Regions from separate parts of the Homo sapiens genome. Here all the other regions are linked to region 3. Evidence: fine-mapped expression QTL. A gene starts in region 3. Each other region holds a variant in brackets. All regions are shown on one strand. Distances are from middle to middle.

What was found. PIP is the estimated chance that this variant, and not a neighbour inherited with it, causes the effect.
Region 1: its variant is the best candidate, but not a certain one, in a credible set for the expression of GNB5 in whole blood (TOPMed, PIP 0.71).
Region 2: its variant is the best candidate, but not a certain one, in a credible set for the expression of GNB5 in NK cells (Gilchrist 2021, PIP 0.85).
Region 4: its variant is the best candidate, but not a certain one, in a credible set for the expression of GNB5 in lymphoblastoid cells (TwinsUK, PIP 0.64).
Region 5: its variant is the best candidate, but not a certain one, in a credible set for the expression of GNB5 in prefrontal cortex (ROSMAP, PIP 0.62).
Region 6: its variant is the best candidate, but not a certain one, in a credible set for the expression of GNB5 in stomach (GTEx, PIP 0.76).
Region 7: its variant is the best candidate, but not a certain one, in a credible set for the expression of GNB5 in whole blood (INTERVAL, PIP 0.73).

What each region holds. Positions count from the first base shown.
Region 1 is chr15:52,210,417-52,214,482 of GRCh38, reverse strand. It overlaps MYO5C (myosin VC), which reads left to right. Exons shown (of 41, transcript NM_018728.4): 34 at 1,197-1,295; 35 at 2,599-2,753. Among named protein-coding and RNA genes, the nearest start is that of GNB5, 21 kb to the right of the region's middle. The variant C/T (reference allele first, on the strand shown) is at 1,936.
Region 2 is chr15:52,116,733-52,120,798 of GRCh38, reverse strand. It overlaps GNB5 (G protein subunit beta 5), which reads left to right. Exons shown (of 13, transcript NM_016194.4): 13 at 1-4,066. Among named protein-coding and RNA genes, the nearest start is that of BCL2L10, 6.0 kb to the right of the region's middle. The variant A/T (reference allele first, on the strand shown) is at 1,731.
Region 3 is chr15:52,189,191-52,193,256 of GRCh38, reverse strand. GNB5 (G protein subunit beta 5) reads left to right here and starts at 1,865. Exons shown (of 13, transcript NM_016194.4): 1 at 1,865-1,935. It overlaps MYO5C (myosin VC), which reads left to right. Exons shown (of 41, transcript NM_018728.4): 41 at 1-935. All of the region lies in intron 2 of CERNA1 (competing endogenous lncRNA 1 for miR-4707-5p and miR-4767), which reads right to left. RefSeq lists an enhancer at 1,268-1,767.
Region 4 is chr15:52,108,808-52,112,873 of GRCh38, reverse strand. It overlaps BCL2L10 (BCL2 like 10), which reads left to right and starts at 99. Exons shown (of 2, transcript NM_020396.4): 1 at 99-636; 2 at 2,901-3,611. The coding sequence starts at 148. The coding sequence ends at 3,026. RefSeq lists a silencer at 93-252 and enhancers at 2,421-2,490, 3,381-3,430. The variant GTGTGTGT/T (reference allele first, on the strand shown) is at 1,691.
Region 5 is chr15:52,094,751-52,098,816 of GRCh38, reverse strand. All of the region lies in intron 1 of LOC112268150 (a long non-coding RNA gene), which reads left to right. It also overlaps the pseudogene RPS13P8. Among named protein-coding and RNA genes, the nearest start is that of BCL2L10, 16 kb to the left of the region's middle. RefSeq lists a silencer at 3,857-4,057. The variant C/G (reference allele first, on the strand shown) is at 1,577.
Region 6 is chr15:52,029,891-52,033,956 of GRCh38, reverse strand. The region is part of intron 1 of MAPK6 (mitogen-activated protein kinase 6); the gene reads right to left. Among named protein-coding and RNA genes, the nearest start is that of MAPK6, 13 kb to the right of the region's middle. The variant CCCAA/A (reference allele first, on the strand shown) is at 2,366.
Region 7 is chr15:52,240,864-52,244,929 of GRCh38, reverse strand. MYO5C (myosin VC) reads left to right here. Exons shown (of 41, transcript NM_018728.4): 19 at 363-574; 20 at 2,717-2,882. Among named protein-coding and RNA genes, the nearest start is that of MIR1266, 34 kb to the left of the region's middle. The variant C/T (reference allele first, on the strand shown) is at 1,530.

The sequences.
Region 1 (4,066 bases), 21 kb before region 3:
TTTGTGACCTAGTGCTGGGCTAACGAAAGGATCCTTTGGGTCAGGAAGACAGCTCCCTCCCACTCAGATGATACCAGATACATTCATGTACTCGCAAGAGACATCCTATAATTAACACATTAACCTCTTCCTCTGTTAGCTCCCTTTTTTAAAAAATGAAATTGTGAACAATTTTTCAATTTACTGCTTTGAAATTCACCTTCTCTCCCTGTTACATATGTAGGATCAGTAAGTATCCAAATTTCTATTAGAAAAGTAGAGAGCTAAGAAGCAGACATCCTGAACATGGACTGCATGGCACACATAAAGCATCCTCGTGAGCCTCTGTGAAAGGGACCCTCCTCCCTTCTTCCCTCCTTCTGCTTCTGTCACTGAACTTTTCTGTGTTCAGCTCCTGCTCACATTTCTCACTCTTTCATTCTTTATTACCTTTTCCCCTTCCTCCCAGCCTTACTGCCAAGGCTGTATCTTGTTTCTTTTTCTATATTCATCTCTTTGAAGAGCAGCTTTATTCTTACTTATCCAACTCTCACCTCAAATTTGAAATGTCCACAAGCAAACTGAGGATCCCTTTCCTTCAGTAATAAATGACAAATGGCAGTCTGCCCCATGAGAGCAGGGCCCAGGTCTGTGCTTCCCAGCCCCCGCTGCATCCCCACTGCTGGGATGAATGAATGAACCATCATTCACCACCCTGGCTCACCTTTCAGACTTCTGACCTCCAGAGCTGTATGATTAAACATTTGTGTTGTTTTAAGCCTCTATGTTTGTGATAACTTTACAGCAGCCACAGGAAACTAATACAGCTGTCTCAGTAAGGATCATGCACATTGGTATTTTGCACACCAAATGTTTCACAAGTCTTCTTTCACAGTAGCATTGGCATCTTGAAGACAAGGCAACATCTTGGATTTCTTTCCTGTTACCATGTGCTGGATACATATCAGGCACTCATAAGGCTCTTCAAAGGATAATTGGGCCTTTTCAGCAGCAGCTGTACTCACTGATGTACTCATAAAGAGGAATCACTACTTGGAGAAATTCTTCAGGATACAATACAGTACAGTTTTAATGTATCTGAAAGCCACAGACATTTACGTGCAAACCAGCCAGAATGGGGTAGGAGAGTAGTCACATTGTGAGACCTGTGAAAGCTGCTTTTGTGTATTTAGCTGATTGTTTGCCTCTGTCTACAGCCAATGATGTGCACTCGTCCTCAGGACCCAAGGAGTACCTTGGAATGCTGCAATACAAGAGAGAAGACGAGGCCAAGCTCATTCAGAACCTCATTCTTGGTAGTGAAACCTGGAACTCTGGATTTTTGCTTTCTCTTTGAGAACTTGCATATCAGTCAGTGCCAAAGTCCTGGGCAGGGGTGGTCCTTTTTCTACTTTTTCTTCCACTGCTTCTTCCCCCAGCCCAGAGTTTCTCAACCTCAGCACTGTTGACCTGTTAACTCTGTGAATGGGGAGTAACAAAGGATGGAGCAGCATCCTTGACTTCTACTCACTAGAAGGCAGCAGCAACCCCTAGTGATGACAATAAAAGATATCTCCAGGTATTGCCGAATGTCCTGTGGGGGCCAAAACTGTCCTCAGTTGAGAACCACTGCCCTGACCTTTTCCAAATTGTAGGACCAGGGTAGAAGAGAAACATCACCTCATTTTTGTGTCTCAGCACAGGAGCCATCATGGAAGCAATTGTGGCTCTGTGCTCCATTTGACTTCTGAGAAATTTCTCTGCGGGCAATGTGATGGGGCTTCCCAGCCATGCCTCAGTTACAGGAATGTCCCATGTGCATGCTCAAGAGTTGGTGGTCATAGAACCAATCTTACTGCACTGTCTTCACTGTGACCTTCCACGTGGTTTTCTGGCATAGGGAGAAAAATCTGCCTCCCTGTCAGCTGGCCCCAAGATCTCAAAACAGAAAGCCAA[C/T]GTGTAGCCTTCCTTCCTCTTCTGCGAGTGACCCCCTTGGCTCATATGAGCACCTCTACCCTTTTCTTTCCCCTCATCACTGGTGTCATGCAGTGTGAGCCTCTTCTTTGTTCTTCTGTCTTCCTGCAGCCAGGGGACATCCTTGTTTGCTTATCTTAACTTTTTTTGTAAGATTTCTCTCTCCCCTTCATCCCCACTGAGCGTTTCCACCATTCTGTTCTCCTCAAGGCCAGCCAGGCATCCTCTGCTGCACTGGGTGTGCCTGCTTTCCCTATTCAAGGCAGCTTCATGTGACTGTGGACACTGTACGCCATCCTCATCAAAGCGCTTGGAGTAGGGGTGCATGGAATGGAGTTTCTTTCTTACAATGGGGGTCTGAAATCCAGGGTTTCCACACCAGGGAAAAATAAAGATTCTGTCTCTTATTCAACCTTTTAAGAAAGAGAAAGTCCTTTGTAAACAAGAAGAGGAACAAGTGACACCTGTGTATCTTGTGCCAAGAAAGGAGCCAGATGGAATTCCTCAAAGAGGAAATAAATCCATATACATTCAGGCACTGTGTCAAGCACAGAAAAGCAAACAAGCCCCTGCCCCTAGTCACAAGTTCCTTAGGAGAAGAGCTGACCTGTCAGCTGTAATCCTCATTGGCTCTCTCTGCTTCAGACTTGAAGCCCCGTGGCGTGGTGGTGAACATGATCCCCGGGCTGCCGGCTCATATCCTGTTCATGTGTGTGCGCTACGCAGACTCTCTGAATGATGCCAACATGCTGAAGTCCCTCATGAACAGCACCATTAATGGCATCAAGCAGGTGGTTAAGGTAGGAAATGCCTTTGACATTGGCCCCTGGTATCACATCTATGGGAATGACCAGATGCCCAGTCTTTGCCCATCCTGAGCCTCCATTGTGTGGTGAGCCACATGATTCCTCAAACAAGTTTGAGGCCCAACTAGTGAAGGGAGCCACACTGTTAGGGAAAGATAAATGGATGAGCATCTGCCATAGGCCTCAAAGCCTTACCGGCGAGACTGCAACCTGGTAGCCACTGCCCCACCACTGCTATCCCCTTAGGGTGTAAAGTTATCAGCTGTGAGGGGTATAGGTTCTATCTCTGTAACAAGGGTAAATCATGAGAAATGAAATGGAGTGAAAAATTATTCATCTCTTCCCTTGGCAATTATATAATTCTTCTTCCTAAAAGCACATTGTGTATTTTTATTCCCAGTCCACAAATGAAGATGAACTGTGTATTAGTTAGGTTAGTTACTTAGTAAAGTTAAGCTATTGTAGCTATGAGACACCTGCCACCTCCCTTTGCCCAATATACAGTGTCTTAAAGAAGATGGAGGATTTTTCTTTGCTGATAGCGGTTCCATAATGAGCCATCTAGGTTGGAAGGTGGCTCTGTTCCACGTGATCATGAAGGGACCCAGGTTCCTTCCAACTTGCTGTTGGCCATTCCCTAAGTCGGTGTCCTTATTGGAATGACTGGACAAGCAGGCAGCCAGCAGTTTACCACTGGGCAAGAGGGAACCTACCATAGGACACAGACCATGTGTGTATGGTATACATATCAGAAGTCACCAACTGAACTCTTTATGAGCAATCATCTCTTCATGGTGTGACAAGTGGATAATGATCAAAAGTGACAATGACAAAGGGCGGGATTTTGTGAAGGCTAACAGTAACATAAAGTTTATTGCTAATTTCCTTTCCAACTGAAACATAATCCTAAAATCATTCTTAGCATACTGATTATTTTTCCTGGAAACTCCATAAGTGATCAATGAGTAAATAACTGTATCTAAGCATTGAAGATTTTTTTAAGCAGACCTGGATCCTTGCTTACAGGGATAGTTGCTTTGTAAAAAGAGTTCTCTGGTAATGCTTGGCGCATTCTGGAATCTTGGGTGTGGGTAGGGTGGTTGACTTAGTTCTAAGCCAGACCTGGTGCTACCCTGAATGTGGAAATTCCATTAGCCACAGTGGAGTTAGTACAAAAACCTTCTCTCTCTCTCTTTTTCTAGGAAATGACCAGTTTACAGTTATGTTAAAAAGTACCCGTTTCTGGGAATTACAATGTACTGATCCATATTGGAAGGGGGCAATAAGACATAAATAACACTAAAATA
Region 2 (4,066 bases), 72 kb after region 3:
CAGGGGCTCAGGAAATGGGCCCAGTGTCTGGCCAGCTCCTGCCAGGTGCTGAAGGGGTCAGGGCACCATGGGATTCCTGAGCTCTGCTCCAGAATGTCCCACAGTGGCCCCTGGTGCAGCTGGCCTCCTTGTGGTGGCATCCCCAACCCTCTCTCCCACAGCCATTTTTTTTTTTGTCTCTGCACTGTGCCTTCCGGCTCCCAGAAGTGCAGGAAGGCACGAGAAAGGAAGGAAAGGTGGCCCAGGGAAGCACATTCCAGGTTCCATGTTTGGAGAGGTGGAGAGCATCTTCAGGATATGTGCAAAGTAGACTGTGACTTTCCAATCCAAAAAGCCACTTTAAGGGCCCAGGGAAAGTATTCCAGAGAATGCTTCCACTCCCCGCATGGGCAGGAAGCCTCCTTCGCTGTGAGCATGCGCTCTCGCAGTGGGTGCTGTCGGGATTTGCTGATGAGATACTTGATTTGGACTATGTGACAGCATGTGGAGACTCAGGGGTAAGCTCCATGGGATAGATTGTATTTTGCAGATTGAAAATAATGCTGAGTGCATTTTATAATCAGCTTTTCTTTTTTCCAGAGGACTTGGGGATAAACCTACCAAACCAATTGTGGTGAAGGGGCCAAACAGATGGGCCCCCAGGGGTGTAGAGCCTTGGGCAGCCCCCTCCTGGGCCAGAAAAAAGAAAGTTCAGGCAGAAAGGTGTGGGTGATGGGTATTTATGGGAAATATCTGTGACATGAAGCCAAGTCCAGTGCTTTAGAATGCGCGGTCAGCCTCTCACCGGTGGGGCCCTGGCAGCCGTCCCTCTTCTCCCAGGCGAGCCAGAGGTGGGCATCCCGTTGCCACTGCCCTCTTCCCGCTCTTCTACCTCCTTTGCACCCTTCTCTAGGTTATAAGTGGCTTAAAACAGCACAGGGTTGTAAGGGCCTTTGTGTCCCGGGCTCTCATAGTTGCCAGGCCAGCTGGCTGAAAGGTGGCACCACCGATACTGGGACTCCTCTGTGAGTTAGAGGGATGCCTTGGTGACATAAGAGGGCTGGCCTTCATTCACACCCACCTCTGTCACGGTCACAGAATATATGATAATATCTGAGTTTTTCTCAGCCTCAGTTTCCCCATTTGTAACATGGGATGGGACTAAAATATGTAAAGTGCCTACCTCAGCCTTTAGCACATCTTCAGGAAGGGTTAGTTCCCAGCTTCTCCCTGTGTCCTCCTCAGTCCCCTTCCTATTTGCCCCCCTCCCTTCTCCCTCCACCTATCTTCCCTCTTTCTCTTCCCTTCCCCTCCTCCTCCCTCTCTCCTCCCTCTCTCCCATTTCCCCCTCCCTCCCTCCCATCTCCTCCTCCCTCCCTCCCATCTCCTCCTCCTCCCTCCCATCTCCTCCCTCCCATCTCCTCCTCCCTCCCATCTCCTCCTCCCTCCCATCTCCTCCTCCCTCCCATCTCCTCCTCCCTTCCTCCTGTCACCCCTCCTCCCTCCCTCTCATCACCTCCTCCCTCCCTCCCATCGCCTCCTCTCTCCTTCCTATCTCCTCTTTCCTCTTCTCTGCCCCCTCCCCCTCTCCTCATTCATCCGGACTCCTTTTTCTAACCCTTCTCAATCTTCCCCCATTCCTCATCTCCTCTTCCTCTGTCTCCCTGTTCCACCTCTCTCCTGGTCTCCTTCCTTCCCCTTCTGCTGTTTCTCCCTCCCTCCTCCTCCCTTCCCATTCCCCTTCCCCCAGC[A/T]CTTCCTTTTCTCCCCATCTCCTCCCCATTCCCCTTCCCCCAGCTCTTTCTTTTCTCCCCATCTCCTCCCCATCCATAGGCAGCCCCCACTCATATAGCAAATTAGTAATTCTCATCAGTTAGAGCTTCGTCTGGGCTAGTGGTTCTCAAACTTTTTGGTCTTAGGATCTCTGTACACTTTTTTTTTTTTTTTTTTTTTACGTGGAGTTTTGCTCTTGTTGCCCAGGCTGGAGTGCAGTGGCGCGATCTCGGGCTCACTTCAACCTCCGCCTCCTGGGTTCAAGCGATTCTCCTGCCTCAGCCTCCCGAGTAGCTGGGATTACAAGGCATGCACCACCACGCCCGGCTAATTTTGTATTTTTAGTAGAGACCAGGTTTCTCCATGTTGGTCACACTGGTCTCGAACTCCCAACCTCAGGTGATCCTCCCACCTTGGCCTCCCAAAGTGCTGGGATTACAGGTGTAAGCCACCGTGCCCAGCCTACACCCTTAAAAGTTATTGAGGACCCCAAATAACTTGCTCATTGTGGATTGTATCTATCCATATTTATTGTATTAGAAATTAAGACTGAGAAAAAGTTATAAAACACAAGAATACAGATGCACACGTTCCATTAGCCATCAAGGTGATCTTTCTCCCATGCCAGTAGTCTCTGGAAAATTCCTGAGAGGATGAAAATAAAAAAATCACCCATACAAAAAAAAAAAGTGTCAATATTATTATGAAAATAGTTTTGACCGTGAGGACCCCCTGAAAGGGTCTCAGGGACCCTCGGGGGCCCTGGATCTTGCTTTGAGAACAGCTGATCTGGGCTAATGAGCCCTTTTCCAGCCCCTCTGTGTGAGACCTCCCAGAAACCACTAAGGGCCTTGGAAGAGCTTGGCAAAGAAAGAGGTGACAGGATGATTGAGGAGAGCCACCCTAGGGAAAGCCTTCAGAGGAGGCTTTGGGACAGCCCCGGTCGGTGGAGGAAGTCCCAGAGAGGCAGTCGGAAGGGCTAGGGACCAGCTGAGGCCTGTGACCTGAAAATCCTTTCAAAAGAGGACGCCTGGAAGCCTGGGGAAGGCACAGTGGGTGGGGTAGAAGACTGGGGCTGAGGCCCAGGCCATTCCCAAGCCTGGAAGAGCTGATTGAGTGGGGATTTGTAGATCTTCATTTCCCAAACTTGCCTGCTGAGAAGAATCGTCCCACCCATGGCAGGTTCCTGCACTGCGCCTTCAGGGCCCTGCCCTGAGATCTGGACTGGGCGGGCCTGAGGTGGGCCAGGAAATCTGAGCCGGAGGCCCACTGGGGAGGCCGCGAGTGAATCTTGTCTCTGTGGATCCTTTGTAAGGATTGCCATGCTAAACCACTTGCCCTCTCATCCGTGACCGGAGAGAATTGGGTCACTCTTCCAGACATACCACAGACTCCTGCTTCTAGACAGCACTTGGCTGGAGCCAGGCTGGCCTTCAGGGTTGGTCAGTCTCCACAGGGGACTCTGGCCTCCCGTGGGCTGCCACAGGGCCAACCCCAGTGAAAGAAATGAAATGACTGAATATGTTCATGTCATTAGAAAAAGGATGCAGCAGGGGGTGGGGAGGAGTTGGTTAATGGAATCAAATTTGCAGCAAGATAGGAGTCTAGTGTTTGGCGGCACTGTAGGGTGACTATCGCTAACAATAATTTACTGTGTATTTTCAAGTAGCTAGAAGAGAGAATTTTGAATGTTCCTGTCAACCTAAATAACAAAGACAGGCTCGCTAAAGATATTTAATCAAAAGTAGGGCATTGCAACAGGAATATGTGTGCTGTAGTAAACTGTGTGCATATTCCAGGAGGTAAAGAAAAACAAAGGTGACTGGGCGCGGTGGCTCACGCCTGTAATCCCAGCACTTTGGGAGGCCGAGGCGGGTGGATCACGAGGTCAGGAGATCGAGACCATCCTGGCTAACACGGTGAAACCCTGTCTGTACTAAAAAAAAATATATATATATATTAGCTGGGCGTGGTGGCAGGTGCCTGTAGTCCCAGCTGCTCGGGAGGCTGGGGCAGGAGAATGGCATGAACCCAGGAGGTAGAGCTTGCAGTGAGCCGAGATGGCACCACTGCACTCCAGCCTGGGCGACAGAGCGAGACTCTGACTCAAAAAAACAAAGAAAAAAAAAAAGAAAAACAAAGGTTTTTAAAGGAAAAAATGAGGAGGATTACATAATGGTTTTGAAATAATTATCCTTGGCTACAAATATCAATAACAAAGGTCACACCAGTCCGAGGTTGGACAGGCAGTTGCTAGGCAGATGTCTTTGCAGAAGTAATTTTTGTGTGAGGTTGCAGCAGCCTATGTGCAAGGTTG
Region 3 (4,066 bases):
ATTGCAACCTCCGCTTCCTGGGTTCAAACAATTCTCCTGCCTCAGCCTCCTGAGTAGCTGGGACTACAGGCACCTGCCACCACGCCCAGCTAATTTTTGTATTTTTAGTGGAGACAGGTTTCACCATGTTGGCCAGGATGGCCTCGATCTCTTGACCTCGTGATCCGCCCACCTCAGCCTCCCAAAGTGCTAGGATTACAGGCGTGTGCCACCGCGCCCGGCTGACCCTTTTAATTTTTAAGAGTGTTCAATCCGAGATGAATCATTTGAAGTATTTTTATATGTATATCTATTTAAAACTAATATATTATTAAAGCTTAATTGCCATGCCGTTTATCTTCTCTGAAAGAACTTCAAATCTTACCTGCCAACATATTCACCATAATTTTTTTATTTTTTAATACCTTTCATACAATAACTTTTTTAAAACAACCTCAGATTGAAAAAGCAACCTAAATTACTTTCGCTCTCTAATCAGCATTTCAATGTATTTATTTTTAAATTTTCTCAAAAAGTAACTAAAAAATTGTGTCGGACCCTACTTTTGAGAAATCTACGTTTCCCAAGTTTTATGGGAACTGGCTATTCCTTGTCCCGGCACACCTTCTCATTCCTTCCTTTCAGAGCCTAAAACCTCATTTGATAAGCACTCCTAGTCTCTGGCCTGTGGATCCAGTGCTATTCTGTCACCAACCTAAGAATCCCAATTGCACCTTCTGTTTCTGACAGTCACAGGTGACAGCTGTGATTCTATAATACAGACTGGTGTCTTAGAGGTAGGAATAATACATGATTATGAAGCATCACCCTGCTAATACATAATAATGTCTTTTTATATTATAAGTGATTGAGTTTAGTTCATTTCAATACATTGTACATGAAAAAATGAAAAGTAGAACTTTGTAATACTTTAATCAATAAAATTAATTACCAAATGAATTGGGTCAGATTCTTTCATTGCGAGGAGATGACATGTCTCTTAAGTGTACAAGTTGTATGCCTTTCTTTACGGTCATACTGAAAGATGCTAGAATCTTTATAGATTCATAATATCTCATTTAAAGTATATTAAAATGTTTAGAGAAGAAGTAAATATGTCATAAGTGCTGGCTTAGGCTGTGTCTCCAGGGCGCTTCCACACTGTCAGAATGAGGGGCTACTTGGCAGAGAATTGGCAGGGTTTCTGATCCTGAGCTGCGGCCTCCATGCCCTTTCTAGACCTTCCCCACACCATGAGGAGCCATCACTGTTGGTTTTCGGCTTCCATAACTCAGGATTTATGCCTGTTTTATAGCACTTACCCTGGACTGGAAGCCAGAAATGCTGCCCATTTCCTCTGTAGGCCTGTGAGCCCCAGAGGGCAGGTGCCACATCCTCCTCATCCCTGCCTTCATCCTACTGCTGATGAGGTGGGAAGAGAACTGAAGGAGCAAAGTCCCGTTGGAGGACTGTGTGTGTGTGGTGGGGAGTCAACCATGGGAAAAAGTAGGTCATGTTTGGGGACAGGGAGACCTGTGGAGGCTGAGGAGTTTATGTGTGGAAAAATGGGGAAAGGGAGGCACTCATCCCACAGTCTTGATCAGTTCTACAAAGCTGACAGTGGCAAGGAGACCAAAATAGAGAAATGTTAAGAACATGTGGCCCAGGTGAATGTGAGGGCTGCTCAGTGAGTGGGCGCAGACACAGAGGTCAAACCTGCCAAGGCCTCCCTCCACAGAGGGGCTGGGCAGGTTCCAGGGGTGAGTGAGGGATGCAGATGGCAGTGCGTGCCCAGCAGGGAGCATGGAAGTGCTGTGGAGGAAGGAAGCAAGCTGAGCAGCACTCCAGAGAAGATAAGGAGATTAGCCAGTGGGAGACGTGCTTCACACCTCAAGCTGCGCGCTGGTCCTCACCTCTCACCATCTGCTCTGTGGCTCCCAGTGCTGACTCTGGAAGGTATGTGCATGCTGACATTCGGTTAAAATACTCCAGCTTTTGAAATGCTCAGAAAAGCATCCAGATGAGTACAGGGCACAGTGTTAGCAGGTCTTTCTGTGCGGTGGGAGCATGGGTGAGGGGTTTTGTTGTTGTTAATCCGTAGAATCTAATTTTTCTACAATACACATGAATTTATTTTGAAATAGTAAATTTCAAATATTTCAAATTGAAATATTTCAATATTTTTTACATTAATATTGGCATCAGGAAAGAGATTAAGCATACTTAAAATCACTAAGTCAGTTTTAAAATTTGATCCAGGTGACACATGGCAACATAAGCCTCTGAGTACAGCTTATGGGGTTAGAAAGAGGTTTTTAGTTGTAAGTCTGAGATACATCCACATTGTGTGTATCAGTTATTTTTTATTCTATGCTCATTTCACAGTTTCGTCTGTGACTGGTGAACATTTGGGTCTTTCAAGTTTAGGCCTTCTATGAATAGCTGCTATGACATTTATGTTTTTTTTTTTTTTTTTTTTTTTTTTTTTTTTTTTTTTTTAAGGAAATAAGCATTATTTTCTGTGGTGTATGTATGCACGAGTAGAATTGCCTGGTCATAGACTATATCCGTTTCACTTTAGTAGCTCCTACCAACCAGTTTTCTACAGTGGTTATACCGACTTATACTCCCACTAGCAGAGAAAGGCAGTTCCAGTCTCTGCATCCTTGCCCACACTTTGTGTTGTCAGGCTTTTTAGGTTTTCTGATGGCTAAGTAGTTGTATCACATCGTAGTTTTACTTTGTATTTCTATGATGACTAATGATAATGAGCACCTTTTTATATGTTTATTGACCATATAAGTATCCTCATTTGTGAAGTGACTACACAAGCCTTTTGTCCATTTTAAAAATAATCTTTGGGCTGGGCGCGGTGGCTCATGCCTGTAATCCCAGCACTTTGGGAGGCTGAGGCGGGCAGATCATGAGGTCAGGAGATTGAGAGCATCCTGGTTAACACGGTGAAACCCCATCTCTACTAAAAATACAAGAAATTAGCCGGGTGAGGTGGCGGGCGCCTGTATTCCCAGATATTTGGGAGGCTGAGGCAGGAGAATGGCATGAACCTGGGAGGCGGAGCTTACAGTGAGCCGAGATTGCGCCACTGCACTCCAACCTGGGCGACAGAGCAAGACTCTGTCTAAAAAAAAAAAAAAAAAAATTTATTGAGATATGATGTCCACGTTTTGTTTCATGTTTTAAAACCCATCATTTTAAAACATATATTTCAGTGTTTTTTAAGTTTATTTACAAGGATTTGCAACCATTGCCACTGACTCCAGAGTATTTTCATCACCCCGAAAAAGAAATCCCATACCCCTTAAGCAGCCACTCACTCTCAGCTCCCTCCTTCCCCCTTATTCTCTCTTCCCTCCACCTCGCAACTACTCATCTGCTTCATGTCTCTATGGATTTGCTGATCCTGTACACTTCATATAAATAAATCATACAATATGTGGCCTTTTGTGTCTGGCTTCTGTCATAGGATAGCGTTTTTAAGGTTTGACCATGTTGTAGCATGTGTCAGAACGTCATTCTTTTTTATTGCTGAATAGCAGTCTACTGGAGGGATAGACATTTTGTTTTTCATTTGTCGGTTGGTGGACACTTGGGTTGCTTTCACTTTTGGCTAATAATGCTGCCATGAAAATTAGTATGTACATTTTTATGTGAACATATATTTTCTTTTTTTTTGTTCTGAGACGGAGTCTCACTGCATTGCCCAGGCTGGATTTCAGTGGCGCGATCTTGGCTCACTGCAACCTCCATCCCCCAAGTTCAAGCAGTTCTCATGTCTCAGCCTCCCAAGTAGCTGGGATTACAGGCACCTGCCACCACGCCTGGCTAATTTTTGTATAGTAGATATGGGGTTTCACCATGTTGCCCAGGCTGACCTCAGGTGATCTACCCGCCTGGGCCTTCCAAAGTACTGGGATTACAGGCATGAGCCACCACGCCCAGCCAGTGAACATACATTTTCAAGTATCCTGGGTATATATCTAGAAGTAGGATTGCGGGGTCTTATGGTAACAGCTGTATATTTAAGTTTTGAATAACTGCCAAACCGTTTTCCACAGCTGCACCATTG
Region 4 (4,066 bases), 80 kb after region 3:
CAAAGGCTCTTCTCTCAGTCCTGAAAAACAATATACCGGGGGCCGGGGGCCGGGGGCCGGGGCGGGGCACGGCAGCCCTACCCTGGGGGAGGCGCGGCCGGGCCAAGAAAACCAGCGAAGGCCCGGCCCCCCAGCAGAGGCCGGACCATGGTTGACCAGTTGCGGGAGCGCACCACCATGGCCGACCCGCTGCGGGAGCGCACCGAGCTGTTGCTGGCCGACTACCTGGGGTACTGCGCCCGGGAACCCGGCACCCCCGAGCCGGCGCCATCCACGCCCGAGGCCGCCGTGCTGCGCTCCGCGGCCGCCAGGTTACGGCAGATTCACCGGTCCTTTTTCTCCGCCTACCTCGGCTACCCCGGGAACCGCTTCGAGCTGGTGGCGCTGATGGCGGATTCCGTGCTCTCCGACAGCCCCGGCCCCACCTGGGGCAGAGTGGTGACGCTCGTGACCTTCGCAGGGACGCTGCTGGAGAGAGGGCCGCTGGTGACCGCCCGGTGGAAGAAGTGGGGCTTCCAGCCGCGGCTAAAGGAGCAGGAGGGCGACGTCGCCCGGGACTGCCAGCGCCTGGTGGCCTTGCTGAGCTCGCGGCTCATGGGGCAGCACCGCGCCTGGCTGCAGGCTCAGGGCGGCTGGGTGAGCACGCGGCGGACACCGGGACACGGGGCGGGACGGGCAGCCGGGAAGCGCCCACGAGGCTGGCACGGTGAGGAACCCACCGCGCCAGGCCCCTGGAACGAGGTTTCGTGAAAGCAGAAAGGCTCGTTTCAGCGGGCCTGGAACGTTCGCTGTGAAGTCTGGGGTTTCTCCTCCCCTGGCAGAAAGGCCGGCAGAAATCGGCCTTCTTAGACGGCCGTGAACCGTTCCGAAGCAGCTGCGCAGGCTTAGGTCTGCTCACTTGGACCTTGCCCTGGCCTTAGCCGTCGGGGACTTTTAGGGGGGCACCCACGTTAGGTCTGAACGTTTTGCTCCTATAGAAATCCCCAACCAATGAAGTCAGCAATGGCGGGGCCCCAGCCAGGTGGGGTGTTTTTCTCCTTCGCCTATTAAATGCGCCTTTGGAGAGACTCAGACCCATTGATCACAACCCCCTACGCCTCTCAGCCTGGCCAGAGAGGTTGTGGAGTGTGGTGGTCGCCCAGTGGTGGCGCTGACCCAAGGTTCCTTAATTTCTAGTCCTCTGCACCCAGTCCTCGGTGAGAACGTTCTAGGCCCCTGGCTTTCAGCTGCAAGCCTTCATCTCTGTGGTCAAGGTTAGAGGGACAGGCCCTTGCCCTGCAGCTGATGATCAAGGAAAGCCACCTGGTGATGAGCCCACTGCATGCCTCTGGGGGCTCTGAGCTAGACCCCATTTCTTTCCCCACCACCTTATTGGCGTTGATTCAATGACTGAAGTGGCCCATGTTATCGGATACCTATAGCCAAACTATTAAAACCAGCAAGTTTTTTGATCCGAAATGTAGCCTCCTGGGGGCAGTTTCCATTTAGACCTTTTTCTTTTTTTCTTTGAGGCGGAGTCTCGCTCTGTGGCCAGGCTGGAGTGCGGTGGTGGATCCCAGCTCACTGCAACCTCTGCCTCCCGGGTTCAAGGATTCTCCTGTCTCAGCCTCCGGAGTAGCTGGGACTACAGGCGCGCCCCACCAAGCCTGGCTAACTGTGTGTGTGTGTGTGTGTGTGTGTGTGTGTGTGT[GTGTGTGT/T]GTTTTCAGTAGAGATGGGCTTTCACCATGTTGGCCAAGATCTCGATCTCTTGATCTCGTGATCTGTCTACCTCAGCCTCCCAAAGTTCTGGGATTACAGACGTGAGCCACCTCACCTGGCCCCCATTTAGACTTTCTATAGTGACAAGTTGGGTTCTATCTGAGAAGGGAAAGGGAGTGGGAGGTGTGTTAGCAGGAACTCCTGCCTTGTTCATAATGTTAGTGTTGGTCTTCAACCCTCTGGGCCGGTGAACTCCCTTCAGCTGCGTGCCTAAGAGCCTCACCTGAGCCCTGTCTCAATACGGCATCTGGCCCCTCCGGGCTCTCTGTACCTGAAGAAGAGATTAGAATTGGAAAGGGGCCGTTGAAGCCTTTTTTTGTTGTTTTTGGCTAATCACTGTTGATGAAAGAATAATCTCTTAACACCAAGGAGCTGAAATTCTTGGCTGGGTGCAGTGGCTCGCACCTGTAATCCCAGCACTTTGGGAGGCCAAGGCAGGTGGATCACCTGAGGCCAGGAGTTCAAGACTAGCCTGACCAACATGGTGAAACCCCCTCTCTACTAAAAATACAAAATTAGCCAAGCACGGTGGCAGGTGCATGTAATCCCAGCTACTAGGGAGGCTGAGCCAGGAGAATCGCTTGAACCCAGGAGGTGGAGATTGCAGTGAGTTGAGATCTTGCCATTGCACTCCAGCCTGGGCACCAAGAGCGAAACTCTGTCTCAAAAAAAAAAGCTGAAATTCTCAAATTGGGTAAACATAGTTCACCCTTGTCTCTGCCCATTGCAGTTAAAATGCCACAGCCTGGAGTTCAATTCCCTTCCTAAATGGGGTTGGTGCTTGCTGTAGTGTCAGGTGATAACTTTTCAATCTAGTGACTTGACAGTTTCCCAAAAGGCATCTCTTCTTTGCTCAGAAAAGAGCATAATAAGCTACCTTCCTCTTGGTTTTGAGTCAAGATATGAGTGTTCCTGCACCAAGTGACAAAGTTAAATGCTTGCTTCTGTTCACTCTGTTAGACTTACCAATCCTCACTCCTCAGGGGCTCCTCATTACTGGATGTGTATTGGTCAGAATTTCCTTTCCTTTTACTTTTTAAATCCAAACTTTACTTTGCTGTTTAATCTGGAAGTTCCTGCGTGTTTTGAGTGAGGTTCTCAGCATCATGAGGCAATCTAACTTTTCTCTCTCCCCCCTGTAGGATGGCTTTTGTCACTTCTTCAGGACCCCCTTTCCACTGGCTTTTTGGAGAAAACAGCTGGTCCAGGCTTTTCTGTCATGCTTGTTAACAACAGCCTTCATTTATCTCTGGACACGATTATTATGAGTTTTAAAACTTTTAACCCGCTTCTACCTGCCCAACTGTGACCAACTAAATGACAGATGTGTGAGAACAAGAACTGAGGGAAAGCACCTTCCCCCACCCCAGACGTTTTTATCTGAATGCATACAAGGAGTCCTGAGGTGGTGATTTGGCCAGTGTTTTAACTTGTGACAAGTACTCAGGTGTGAGGACAAGAATGCAAATGGCTCTTCCTTGAGTGAAAGAAATGGGGAGTCTAGAGCCTCTTTATGCCAAAGAACCGCAGAAGAAACTGCATTCCATTAAATGGGAAATACAGTGCTATTTGCTAAAACTTGGATAAGAGTGCGAACCTCTCATCTCTCCACAACTTCATGTGCTGCTGACTAATTTTAAACATGGCCACAGCTGGGGCAAAATAATCCCCAAAGTAGAAAAAGTCCCAGTTTAACAAAGAATGTAATGTTAAAATCACTTATAAGGAATTCTTTGAAACCAAATCCTTTGAAATCTAATTCCTGGGACTTCTAGGTTTTTATAGTTAACATACTAATTTCTTCAATAATTGTTAACTGCAAAGTTTTAATAAATTTGTACCTTTAAAAAAAACTTAGTTGTCTTTCCTAATTCAATAAGCGTTCATTCTTAGGAGTAAGTAGAATTGATGACAATTTGTTTTTATTGTCTCCTTAAATATACATGTAACGGTGCTTGACTTTTTTTTTCCCCAACACTTAATGCACAAGCTCAAAGTCCCTCCTTCCTCTCCCCCTTCCATTCTGCAAACTGTCACCCACCTGCAAGGTGGTTGACAGCATGATTCCCTGCAGGCCTTCCCACTCATTATTATACTTGCATTTTATAAAACTTAACTGGACCTGCTCTTTTGGCTTAATCTTATGAGGTCTTTCTCTCCAGAACATGCAGCTCTGCCTTACTGTTTGGACTGTTGCAGTGCATTCTTATCACAGGATATGCTAATTTAATTACCTTTTCACCGCTGTGTATTTCAGGGTGTTTCTCCTTTGGGGGCTACTAGAAACATTGCATGGAATTTTTTGTGC
Region 5 (4,066 bases), 94 kb after region 3:
GTCTTCAAAGCTCATTTTGGAATTAACTGTTACCGATAGAAGAATGACTCAGGCTTTAATAGTTGACTTTGGAAGAGGAGGGTATCTGCGTCTTTAGACACCTTGCACACAAGACTTTTGGTCTTTAAAAATGCTCAGATTTTTGTACTTTGAGAGGTAAGACCCCTTCATTTCAATATGGTTGAAAGTTACATTTCTTTTTAAATCAAAATCATAAAGTTATCTGATTCCTCTGGGGAAAATGTACAAAGAGATCTGATAGTGTTCGGTAGTTGCGCAACCACTTACTTGGGTCTTTGGTCTTGAAGGTTTAAATTATCTGGACTTTAGCTTCCTCACAGTGGTTGTAAAGTTGAAATGCACTCATATGAAAACTACCAGCTGTCATTAGTATTTCAAAATGGGAAGAGACTGGATTTTATTTTAAGACACTTTAGGAAACAAGTGTTGGCCATTTCTATATTTGTGCTGTAACAAATACACCCAAATTCCCTAAAAAAAAAATGGTTCTTCCTCACTCAAGTATCATTAAGTACATCTAATAATGTATTAGGCAGCATGGTTATTAGCAGTTTAAAAAAATGAGTTGTCCTTTTATTCCTTATGTATTATTTATTGGATATTTTATTTAGATTTCTAAACATGGAGGATGATATGTTTAAAGGTGGTGTTCTTGTAACCAGTTGTAAAGCTACTTAGTTGAATGAAATTTGAATTTCATGGTTGTGTTTTATCTTTACCCACTTTTCTGTAAGAGGCCTCCACTGGCCAAATTTGGGACAATGTGAGCATCAAATAGATAATAGGAAAGGATTAGAACCCACTGATAGCATTGGCTCATGGTTTTGTTTTTTTAACTAATATAAATAAGTGAAAGAGGAAACCCTTTCTCCAAGGAGTCCTGGTTCCTTTTAGTGGCCAGTGGTATTAACATCTGAGCTGCATTTTACTTTTATACATCTGTATTCATTTGACCTTAACATTTTTATTTTGTTAGCAAGATTACATTTAATGAGATAAAACTTAGTGTTTTATCTTTATTATCATTTTTATCAGAAAATTACTTGTATCAAATTTGATAATAGGAAATCAACTATTCTTTTTTTTAATGTATTTGCAAATAATTGAATATGTGTTTTAAAGCTTTAGTTTAAAGCATAAGTAGTGCTCATTTTTTTCAGTTGGATTATATCTTGTCCTCCCTGTTTTCAAATTCTATTGAAAAGATCTATTACAGCTCAATAATCAATAGTAGCATTAACACACTGGAGGTGGGGGGGGGTCCCATCAGCAATGTGGAATTTCCAGATTTAATGTCAATGGGAGTAAACTGACAATAGAACCCAGCTAGAGGGATCTCTAGCCCACTTCAGGCAATAAAAAGCACCTCTCAAAAAAGTGAAAGTTTTCTCTTACAAAATGATGGAACAATGCCAAGATGGGAAGCAGCAGTCCCCAGCAGTTGGCTGGGCCAATCTTCCACCCCACACATCTTAGCTCTAGCTATTAACTGACCCCAAGGATCACCAGATATTGAAAGAAAACTAATTGCATGGGAGAAGTAACAGACTCAGCA[C/G]AAAGAATACTCTCAAGGATGCATAATCAAAGAAGAAACTAGAATAAAACTCTAAAGGAAACATGGATATCTCAGATTTGGAAGAATCTCCAGCCATTTTTTTTTTTAATTTCTGTCATTACAGTTCTTGGAAATCAAAAGTATTGCTGAAATAAATTTGCTGGGCATTATTTTTCTTCTTCTTTTTTTCTTTTCTTTTCTTTTTTTTTTTTTTGAGACAGTCCTGCTCTGTCACCCAGGCTGGAGTGCAGAGGCACGATCTCAGCTCACCGCAACCCTCACCTCCCGGGTTCAAGTGATTCTCCTGCGTGCCACCATACCCAGCTAATTTTTGTATTTTTGGTAGAGATGGGGTTTCACTATGTTGGCTAGGCTGGTCTCAAACTCCTGATCTCAGGTGATCTACCCACTTCGGCCTCCCAAAGGGCTGGGATTACAGGCGTGAGCCACCACACCCAGCCTGGGCATTACTTTTATAACAACTTTTTATTAAAGTATATTTTGGCCAGGCGTGGTGGCTCACCCTTGCAATCCCAGCACTTTGGCGGGGCTGAGGCGGGTGGATCACCTGAGGTCAGGAGTTTGAGGGCAGCCCGGCCAACATGGTGAAACCCCACCTCTACTAAAAACACAAAAATTAGCTGGGCGTGGTGGCACGTACCTGTAATCCCAGCTACTCAGAAAGCTGAGGCAGGAGAATTGCTTGGATCTGGGAGGTAGAGGTTGCAGTGAGCCGAGATCATGCCACTGCACTCCATCCTGGGTGATAGAGCGAGACTCTGTCTCAAAAAGTAAAAATAAATAAAGTATCTTTTAAGGTGGTTTTTTCTTCCATGGTTTTTGCAATTTAAAAATTTAGATAAAATTTATATAACATAAAACCATTTTAAATTATACAACTCAATGATTTCTAATATATTAACAATGTTATCCAACCATCATCTTTAATTCCAGACACTTCTGTCATCTCATAAAGAAACCTCATACCCATTAGGAGTCACTCCCAATTTCTCCCTTCCCTCACCTTCTGGCAACCATTAACCTACTTTTTATCTCTATGGATTTGCCTATTCTGGACATTGCATATCAATAGAATCAGACAACACATGGCTTTTTGTGTCTGACTTTTTTCATTTAACATAGTGTTTTTATGGTTTGTCCACATTGTGGCATATGTCTGTACTTGATTCTTTTTTTATGGCTGAGTAATACTCCGCTATTTGAACATACCAAACTTTGTTTATCCATTCATCAGTTGATGAACATTTGGGTTGTTGCACTTTTTGGCTATTATGAATAATGCTGATATGAACTTTAGGCTTTTGTGTGGACATGTTTTTAATTCCATCTAGCAGTGGAATTGCTGAGTCACATGGTAACTCTGTTTAATGTTTTGAGAAACTACTAACCTGTTTTTCACAGTGGCTACGTTATTGGGTTTTTTTGTTGTTGTTAAGCAATCATTTTATTGCTTGAGTACATAGACAAATTTATGCTACCAGGGCAGAGGCTGTAGATGATTCATATTTCCAATTGGGAGGGAGGACTCGCTTGGTCTTGTAATATCGAGCCAAGTGGTGAATCCAGCTCTCTATCAGAATCAGATGGAATTTAGCATTCTTATCCTTTCTGTTCCTCTCAAGATGCTTTTGAACAGCAACTGCTTTCTTAATTAAATGGTAGAGATCTTCAGGGAGATCAGGAGCAAGTCCCTTAGACTTAAGATTTCTTAAGATTTTATTGCCTGTCACAAAACGTACTTGTGCAACACTATGTCAGTCTCTCAGGATCACACCAATTTGTGAAGGAGTCAGGCCCTTCTTGGCCACTTAGTAAATCTGCTCCTTCACGTCATCAGATGTCAACTTCAGCCAAGTGGGGATGCTGTGGCGATAGGGCAAAGCCAACCGGGACGGGCCCTTCCCAGGAGCATGCATGCGACCCATGATGGCGGCAGTCAGGCAGTGAAGTGTGGCCACGTTATTAAATGTTCCCACCTGCAATGTAGGAGGGTTTCACCTCCTCCCATGTTGAAACCTCAGGATTCTCAAGGAGAAAGGGAAAGGACTCACCAGGCAAGACCTGGAGAAGAAACACCTGTGCCTTTAAAATAGAGAGGACGGGTGACTTCTGGCCACTTGGCTTTCCTGACACCACACGGCCACCCACCCTCTCTTGCCAACACCACAGCTGAAGGGCAGGGCAGCCATCCTAGACTAGGTCAGAGGTCAGCTGCGCTCCATCCTCCCTCTGCCTCTTACACAGCCAAATGGTGCTGCTTCTAACCCTCATCACTCAGCTGCTTCTCACCCTAAGGCCTCCATCTGGCACTGTTTGCCATCCAGCTGCTGTTCCAAGTTCTGCTCAGGTAGCTAACAGTGTCACGTTTCTAAACCATGCCTTTTGTAATATTTGAAACTCAAAGGAATTGAAAATGTGGGTGACGGTAGTCAGTAAGAACCCAGAGCCAAAGCACTACAGTCCCCATGT
Region 6 (4,066 bases), 160 kb after region 3:
AACCAGGGAAAAGAGATAAAGTATATACTGGAGAAGAATAATAAGAATGATAGCTGATTTATCACTAGAAACAATGAAAAACAGAAGACAATAGAATATGTTTTAAGTACCAAAAGAAAAAAAAAACTATCAACCCAAAAAGAAAATAAGGAAAAAATAAAATAAAAAACAAAGCCTATTAACCCAGATGTATTAGTCACACTTCTCCACAGGGACAGAAATAATAAGTTTTATGTATATATGAAAGGGAGCTTATTAGGGAGAACTGGCTCACACAATAACAAGGCGAAGAAGTCCCACGTCAAGCCGTCTGCAAGCTGGGGAAGAAATAAGCCAGTAGTGGCTCAATCTGAGTCCAAAAGTCTCAAAAGCAGGGAGGCTAACAGTGCAGCCTTCAATCTGTGGCTGAAGGCTGGAGAACCCCCGACAGACCACTGGTCTAAGTCAAGAGTCCAAAGCCCAAACAATCTGGAGTCTGATGTTCAAGGGCAGGAGGAACAGAAGGAAGCATCCAGGACGGATGAAAAATGAAAGCCAAAAGACTTAGCAAGCCAGCTTATCCCATCTTCTTCCACCTGCTTTGTTCTAGCCTCGGTGGCAGCCAATTGGATGGTGCCCACCCACACTGATGAGGGTGGGTTTTCCTCTCCCAGTCCACTGACTCAAAGGTCAGTCTCCTCTGGCAACACCCTGACAGACACACCCAAAAACAATACTTTACCAGCTACCTAGGCATCCTTCAATCCAATCAAGTTGACACTTAATACTAACCATCACACCAGAATTCTGTATCTAAGAGAAATAACCTTCAAAAGACCTTTTCAAAGAAAAGACAAAAGTAGAAAGATGCCAGGTGCCGTGGCTTATGCCTGTAATCCCAGTTACTTCTCAGGAAGTGAGGTGGGATAATCACTTGAGTTCAAGACCAGCCTGACCAACATAGTGAGACCCTGTCTCCATTAAAAAAAAGGAGGCCGGGCGCGGTGGCTCACGCCTGTAACCCCAGCACTTTGGGAGGCTGAAGCGGGCAGATCACCTGAAGTCAGGAGTTTGAGACCAGCCTGACCAACATGGAGAAACCCCTATCTCTACTAAAAATACAGAATTAGCTGGGTGTGGTGGCGCATGCCTGTAATCCCAGCTGCTAGGGAGGTTGAGGCAGGAGAATCACTTGAACTTGGGAGGCGGAGGTTGCAGTGAGCCGAGATTGTGCCACTGCACTCCAGCCTGGGCAACAAGAGCGAAAGTCCGTGTCAAAAACAAAAAAAGAAAAAAAGTATTTAAAAAAACTGGATAGAAATCTGTCTCCAGCAGACTTTCACTTCAAGAAATGCTAAAAGAAGTCTTTTAGGATGAAAGAAAAATACACCAAATGTAACTAACCCCAGATCTACAGAGAGGAATAAAAAACTCAGAAAGGGTAAATATCTCGAAAATATAAAAAGTCTATTAAAAATATCTATCCACGGCCAGGCACAGTGGCTCACGCCTGTAATCCCAGCACTTTGGGAGGCCAAGGCAGATGGATCACCTGAGGCTGGGAGTTCAAGACCAGCCTGGCCAAAATGGAGAAACCCCATCTCTATGAAAAATACAAAATTAGCTGAGCATGGTGGCACATGACTGTAATCCCAGCTATTCGGGAGGCTGAGGCAGGAGAATCGCTTAAACCAGGGAGTCGGAGGTTGCAGTGAGCCGAGATTGCACCACTGCACTCCAGCCTGGCAACAGAGCAAGACTCTGTCTCAAAAAAAAAAAAAAAAAAAAAAATTAAAAATTGTTGGGCTGGGCACGGTGGCTCACGCCTGTAATCCCAGCACTTTGGGAGGCCGAGGCAGGCGGATCATGAGGTCAGGAGATCGAGACCATCCTGGCTAACATGGTGAAACCCTATCTCTACTAAAAATACAAAAAAAATTAGCCAGACGTGGTGGTGGGCGCTGCAGAAGAATGGCATGAACCCGGGAGGCAGGGCTTGCAGTGAGCCGAGATCGTGTCACTGTACTCCAACCTGGGCAACAGAGCGAGACTCCGCCTCAAAAAAAAAAAATTATTTGTTCATATTATAAAGAAAGTCACAGCACTGAACATGAAAATAAAATGGTGAAATTTTTATTTTATTTATCTTGAGACAGGATCTCGCTTGCCCAAGCTGAAGTGCAGTGGCATGAACATGACTCATTGCAACCTCCACCTCCATTGCTCAAGGTGGGTGGACCATCTCAGCCTTCTGAGTAGCTATGACCACCGTGCAAGGTGCCACACCCGGCTCAATTTTTTATTATCTTGGTAGAGACAAGGTTTCCCAATGTTGCCTATGCTAGTCTTGAACTCCTGGGCTCCAGCGATCCTCCCACCTTGGCCA[CCCAA/A]AGTGCTGGGATTACAGGTGTGAGCCACCACGCCTGGTCAACATTTTACAAGAATATAAGCAAGGTTTTATTGAGACTGTATTATGTGTGAAGCATTGTGTTGGACATATACCCTTACACTAAATCCTCCCAATAGGCAAAATAGGCAAAATATAATCTTTATTTTAGAGAACTTAAAAAACACATTCAAGATCACACATGAATGAGAGAGCCAGGATTTGAACCAGGTTTGTAAACCAAATTCCATTATCTCTCACTGTAACTTATTTTTTTATTGACAAGTATAGTACATATCTCCCTTCACTCCCCAACCTTTTGAGTAGAGTATATTTCCTATAGACAAAGACCTTCTTCTGGCTGGGGGCAGTGGCTCACACCTGTAGTCCCGGCACATTGGGAGGACAAGGTGGGCGGATCACTTCAAGTGAGGAGTTTGAGACCAGCCTGGCCAACAGGGGGAAACCCTGTCTCTCTACTAAAAATACAAAAATTAAGGCCAGGCATGGTGGCTCACACCTGTAATCCCAGCACTTTGGGAGGCCAAGGCGGGTGGATCCTTTGAGGTCAAGAGTTTAAGACCAAACTGACCAACATGGTGAAACCCTGTCTCTACTAAAAATACAAAAAAATGAGCCAGGCATGGTGGCACATGCCTGTAATCCCAGCCACTCAGGAGGCTGAGGCACGAGAATTGCTTGAACCCAGGAGGCAGAGACTGCAGTCAGCCGAGATCACGCCACTGCATTCCAGCCTGGGTAACAGACTGAGAGCCTGTCTCAAAAAAAAAAAAAAAATTAGCTGGGCATGGTGGCACACGCCTGTAGTCCCAGCTACTCGGGAGGCTGAGGCAGGAGAATCCCTTGAACCTGGGAAGCGCAGGTTGCACTGAGCCAAGATTGCACCGCTGTACTCCTTCATCCTGGGCAACAGAGTGAGACTCTGCCTCAAAAAAAAAAAAAAAAAAAAAAAAAAAAAAGCCTTCTTCTGCATAACTAAAACACAACCATCAAAATCAAGAAATTAACGCTGGTATAGTACTACCATCTGATAATCAGGCCCCATTTAAGTTTCTGCAATTATCTCAATCATGTACTTGGGAGGTAAAGGACCCAGTCCAGAATCACGTTACACTGGGTACAATGCAATTATTATGCAGTTTTTCCCTTCTGAGATTTAAAGGAATCAAACATTTTATACAGTCCACAAAAATTTACTGAGCACTTAGCATGTGCCAGGCACTGTTTGACAATATAGTAGAGAATAAGACAGACAAGGTTCTTCTGCTTCCGAAGAGCTCGCATTCTAGTAAGGAAAGACCAACAAACATGTTAGCTAATTAACAAATTCAGATTTGGCCTAGTAGCTGGGAAATGGCCCTCTGAGGAGCTGAAACCTGAATAAGAAGCTACCAGCACTGCTAAGAGATGGGAGAAGGGCATTCCTAACAGAGGAAACAACAAATTGAACAAACCTAAGGCAGGATAAAACTTGGCATTTTGGAGCAAAAGAAATGCCAGTGTAGCCACAGCATCCACAGCAAAGGGCAAAGGAAAGGAGGTAGCAATGAGGAAGGAAGGAACACATGAGGCAGGATTCTGAATCTCATAACTAAGACCAAAGAAAAACTATGAAACCATTTTAAGCAGGCAATCTACATTATTTCATTTACATTTCTGAAAGAAGATTCTTGTTACTGG
Region 7 (4,066 bases), 52 kb before region 3:
AAGAGAACCCAAAATGGAGACAGAAAACCAAACTTCCCCAGTTTCTTCTACTCCAATGTGGAGACCACGAGAGAGTGGCTGAAGTTCTCTGGCAGCCCAACTGAGAATCGCCGCAAATGACACTCACTCCCCTTCTCACCCACAAATGGATTCCTCAGCCTAAGTCCCATTTCTTCCTCCAGGGTAATTTTAAACAAACAACTCAAAGTATACATTTCTAGATCATGATGTGAGTTTTCTGCCTTAAATGTCAAAATCACAATATTTCTGGCACCTTTGAATCCCTAAAGCTCTTTTCCAAATACTGTATTATAGAAAATCTGACAGATTTTAATTCTAACTATATCATTTTTCTCTTCCAGGATTCTAATCAGTACCAGTTTGGTAAAACCAAAATTTTCTTCAGAGCAGGACAAGTGGCTTATTTAGAGAAACTTCGATTGGATAAACTGAGGCAGAGTTGTGTTATGGTACAAAAGCACATGCGTGGCTGGCTCCAGAGGAAAAAATTCCTCCGAGAGAGACGAGCCGCCCTGATAATCCAGCAGTACTTCCGGGGTCAGCAAACTGTGAGGTATGTTGGAATCAAGGAACACATGTGGAACTGTGGGGCTTTCTGTGCTGATCATCTCCGGCGGGGAGGACTCATCAAGGACAAGGGACCTTTCTCCTGTGACCCAGGGTGCAGACGTGCATGGGTCCCCTTTGTGGTCGTGAGCATTAGGGCAAGAAAGGTCCGTCTCTCAGGGGCAGGTAGTGCTGGCTCTGCCTGGTGTCTGTGTGGTGAGCCGACACCCAGGGCCCTGCAGGGAGGAAGCGCTGGTGAGAGTGTTACTAAGGAGAGTCAGGGTTCCGGAAGCTCAGGGAGAGGCCCGGGGCCCCTTTCCTATGGGAACTGAAAATGCATAAGATCAGCAAGGCCCTAGTGAAGATCCAAAGGACAGATGTCAAGAATAGCCAGCGACCAGCCTGCCAGCAACAGGTGGGGTGCACCATGGCAGAGGGGGTCCCTGCAAGGCCTGGCAGCAAACCAATCACAGAACCCCTAAGCAGGAAGACCACAGCAGCCCCAGCCAAGCCAAGGGCTGAGGGGAGGGTGGTCCACCAGCTGCGCTGATCCTACCTGCCTCGAGGGGTCCTGAGAGTCCACACAACCCTGCCAGCCCACTGAAGGACCACGGTCATTCCGGGACTTCCAGGGCTTTGGTGTACCTGCTGGAAAGCACAAGACCAGGGTGCCCCTAGATAAACTTTGTGTTTCTCTCTGCCTGCTCTGCCCCTTCTTTGGGATGCTGTGAGGATGCTTGAGAAGGCCGGCGTTTAGGGTCAGGCTGCGTCTGCAAGCCTGACTTCTTCCTGAGCTGGAGGCTGAACTGTGGCAGCATCTGGCCTTCTCTGCATGACCAGCGTGGTGTGGCATGGATCACACAGCTGGGCTGGCTTGCCCTCCTGTGCTTCTGTGCCCAGTTGATAACAGCAGTCTTTGGGGAAGGAAATCACAGTTATCTTACCCGCCAAGGCCACGCTCC[C/T]TTCCCATTTGGGGCTCACCAGAGCCTGATCATCCTGCCCTGCTGGCCTCCTGCCTATCCCATTCATTTCATCCCACTCCTGCCCCCAGTTTAGGCTCACGGCATCACCTGCCTTGCACTCTGATGGCACCGTGCTCCACCTCCCACCTCCTTCCCATCTTCCTACATCAGAGCCTGATTGAGACACTGCCCTGCACCTGCCTTTAAGGCCCGTGTTTCCTACAGAATAGCATTCAGTCTCTGACGTGATATTCAAAGCCCTCCATAGCCTGGGTGCATTCATAAGAATGGAAGCTCCATGAGGGCAGGGGCCACACTTGTCTGGTCATTCATACCCAGACCTAGCATGGTGGCTGTCATAGAAGGTGTTCAACAAATATGTTTTTAAAATAACAAATGGTGCACATCTATTTTTCTAACCTCATTGACGTCTAATTTTCTTCATCCATCTTATTCTAGTGATTCCAAACAAACTCCTTTTCTGAGTATTTCAGGCACTGTAGAGCCTCCATGCCTTTACTCATGCTGGTCCCTTATCCTGAAAGCCTTTTCCAGCCTTCACTGTGTACAGACATCCTACTGCATTGGGGGCTGGCTCACATACCCACTTTCCCCAAGCAGAATAACTGTTTTTTTCCCCTCTCACTTACAGATCTAGTTAGGTGGTATTTTATTTTTCCTCTTTCTTGGCCATTTGTTAGTCTTTCTGTACATGAGGTTGTAAACTCTAAAGGTAAGGACATTATCTTCACCTCTAGTCATTTAGACAGGGGCAGCAAACTTTTTCTGTAAAGGACGAGATGATAACTATTTAAGGCATTGGGGGCTTGCAGTCTCTCCTGCTGCTGTGTCATGAAAGCAGCCGTGGGGGATATGTAAATAGTACGTGATTGAGCAAGTGCAGCACCAGTGCACAGTCTCATCATCGTCTCTGTGGGTACCTGAGTGGAGGTGAATCGACTGGCCTGAATGAAAAGAGTGAAAGTTCCCATGTGGTTCCTCAAGGACAGGGAACTGGGGACTGGCCTCAAGTAGGCATTAGAATAAACTGCCCACAGAGTTTAATGTGGAGAGGTGTAAAATATTTGAACCTTCCTTATAAACACATGCTAGCCAAGCTTGCAGCTCTGTTATGGAAGTTGATGCTCTGTGGGTAACAGACTCACTCTTCATCCTTGTTAACCAAGGAAAGCTATTACTGCAGTGGCCTTAAAAGAAGCTTGGGCAGCCATAATCATTCAGAAGCACTGCCGCGGGTATCTTGTTCGCAGCCTGTATCAGTTGATTCGCATGGCCACCATCACAATGCAGGCCTACAGCCGAGGATTCCTGGCAAGGAGGAGGTATCGAAAGGTGAGGCCAACCTCTGTCTAGAGGAAGGGAGGGTGTACGGGCCTTCCTTACTGAGAACAAAACAGGGCCCAGGGAAAGACTTCACTATGGGCAACCTCACTTTGTACAAAGTGTCAGCCAAGCCAGAAAGGAGATTCTTCCAGGTGCTGTGGCTCATGCCTGTAGTCCCAACTACTCAGGGAGCTGAAATGGGAGGGTTCCTTGAGCCCAGGAGTTCGAGGCTGCAGTGAGCTATGATCATGCCAGTACACTCCAGCCTGCGTGGGTGACAGAGGGAGACCCTGTCTCTCTCTCTCACACACACACACACACACACACCAGTTGCACTGTTGGTTTCTCTTTCTCCCAGTTGGCCCCAAAGAGACCACACCAAAGGAAAGTACATTTTAAGCCAATAATGTGCACCTAACAGACAGGATATACACCTAACAGACCTCACCTAAAGCAGAGACTGGGTTGGGGAAAGAAATTTTAAAAGATCAGCACACTGGCTGGGCACGGTGGCTCACACCTGTAATCCCAGCACTGTGGGAGGCCGAGGTGAGTGGATCATGAGGTCAGGAGATCGAGACCATCCTGGCTAACACAGTGAAACCCTGTCTCTACTAAAAATACAAAAAATTAGCCGGGTGTGGTGACGGGCACCTGTAGTCCCAGCTGCTCGGGAGGCTGAGGCAGGAGAATGGCATGAACCCGGGAGGCGGAGCTTGCAGTGAGCCAAGATTGCACCACTGCACTCCAGCCTGGGTGACAGAGTGAGACTCCGTCTCAAAAAAAAAAAAAAAAAAAAAAAAAAAGATTAGCCCACTGCCACCCCACAGACTGTAGAGAGCTCTCACAGCCAGATGGGATGTCCAGGGTGTCCAACTCCAAAGAAACGAATTCAAAGTAATATAAAATTGAACAAGTTTTCTACATAAGCTATTCAAGATTTCTCCAGCACTGACTAATACAAAGCACAATGAGATGGCTCTTTTAGAGGCAGCAGCTTTAGACTCAGAAAAGGGTGATGAGATGAGTTTCATACGGCAAAAAAATAATTTTCTTTCTTTCAAGGAGGGAGGAGAGCAATAAGTGTTCACTTCAACATAAGGGGTGCCTGATCCATCCTGTGAGTGGATGGGAAAGGGGTTGAGATAGGACAAAAGTTTGGTCTCAGAGATTTCACAATCTTAATTCGGTCA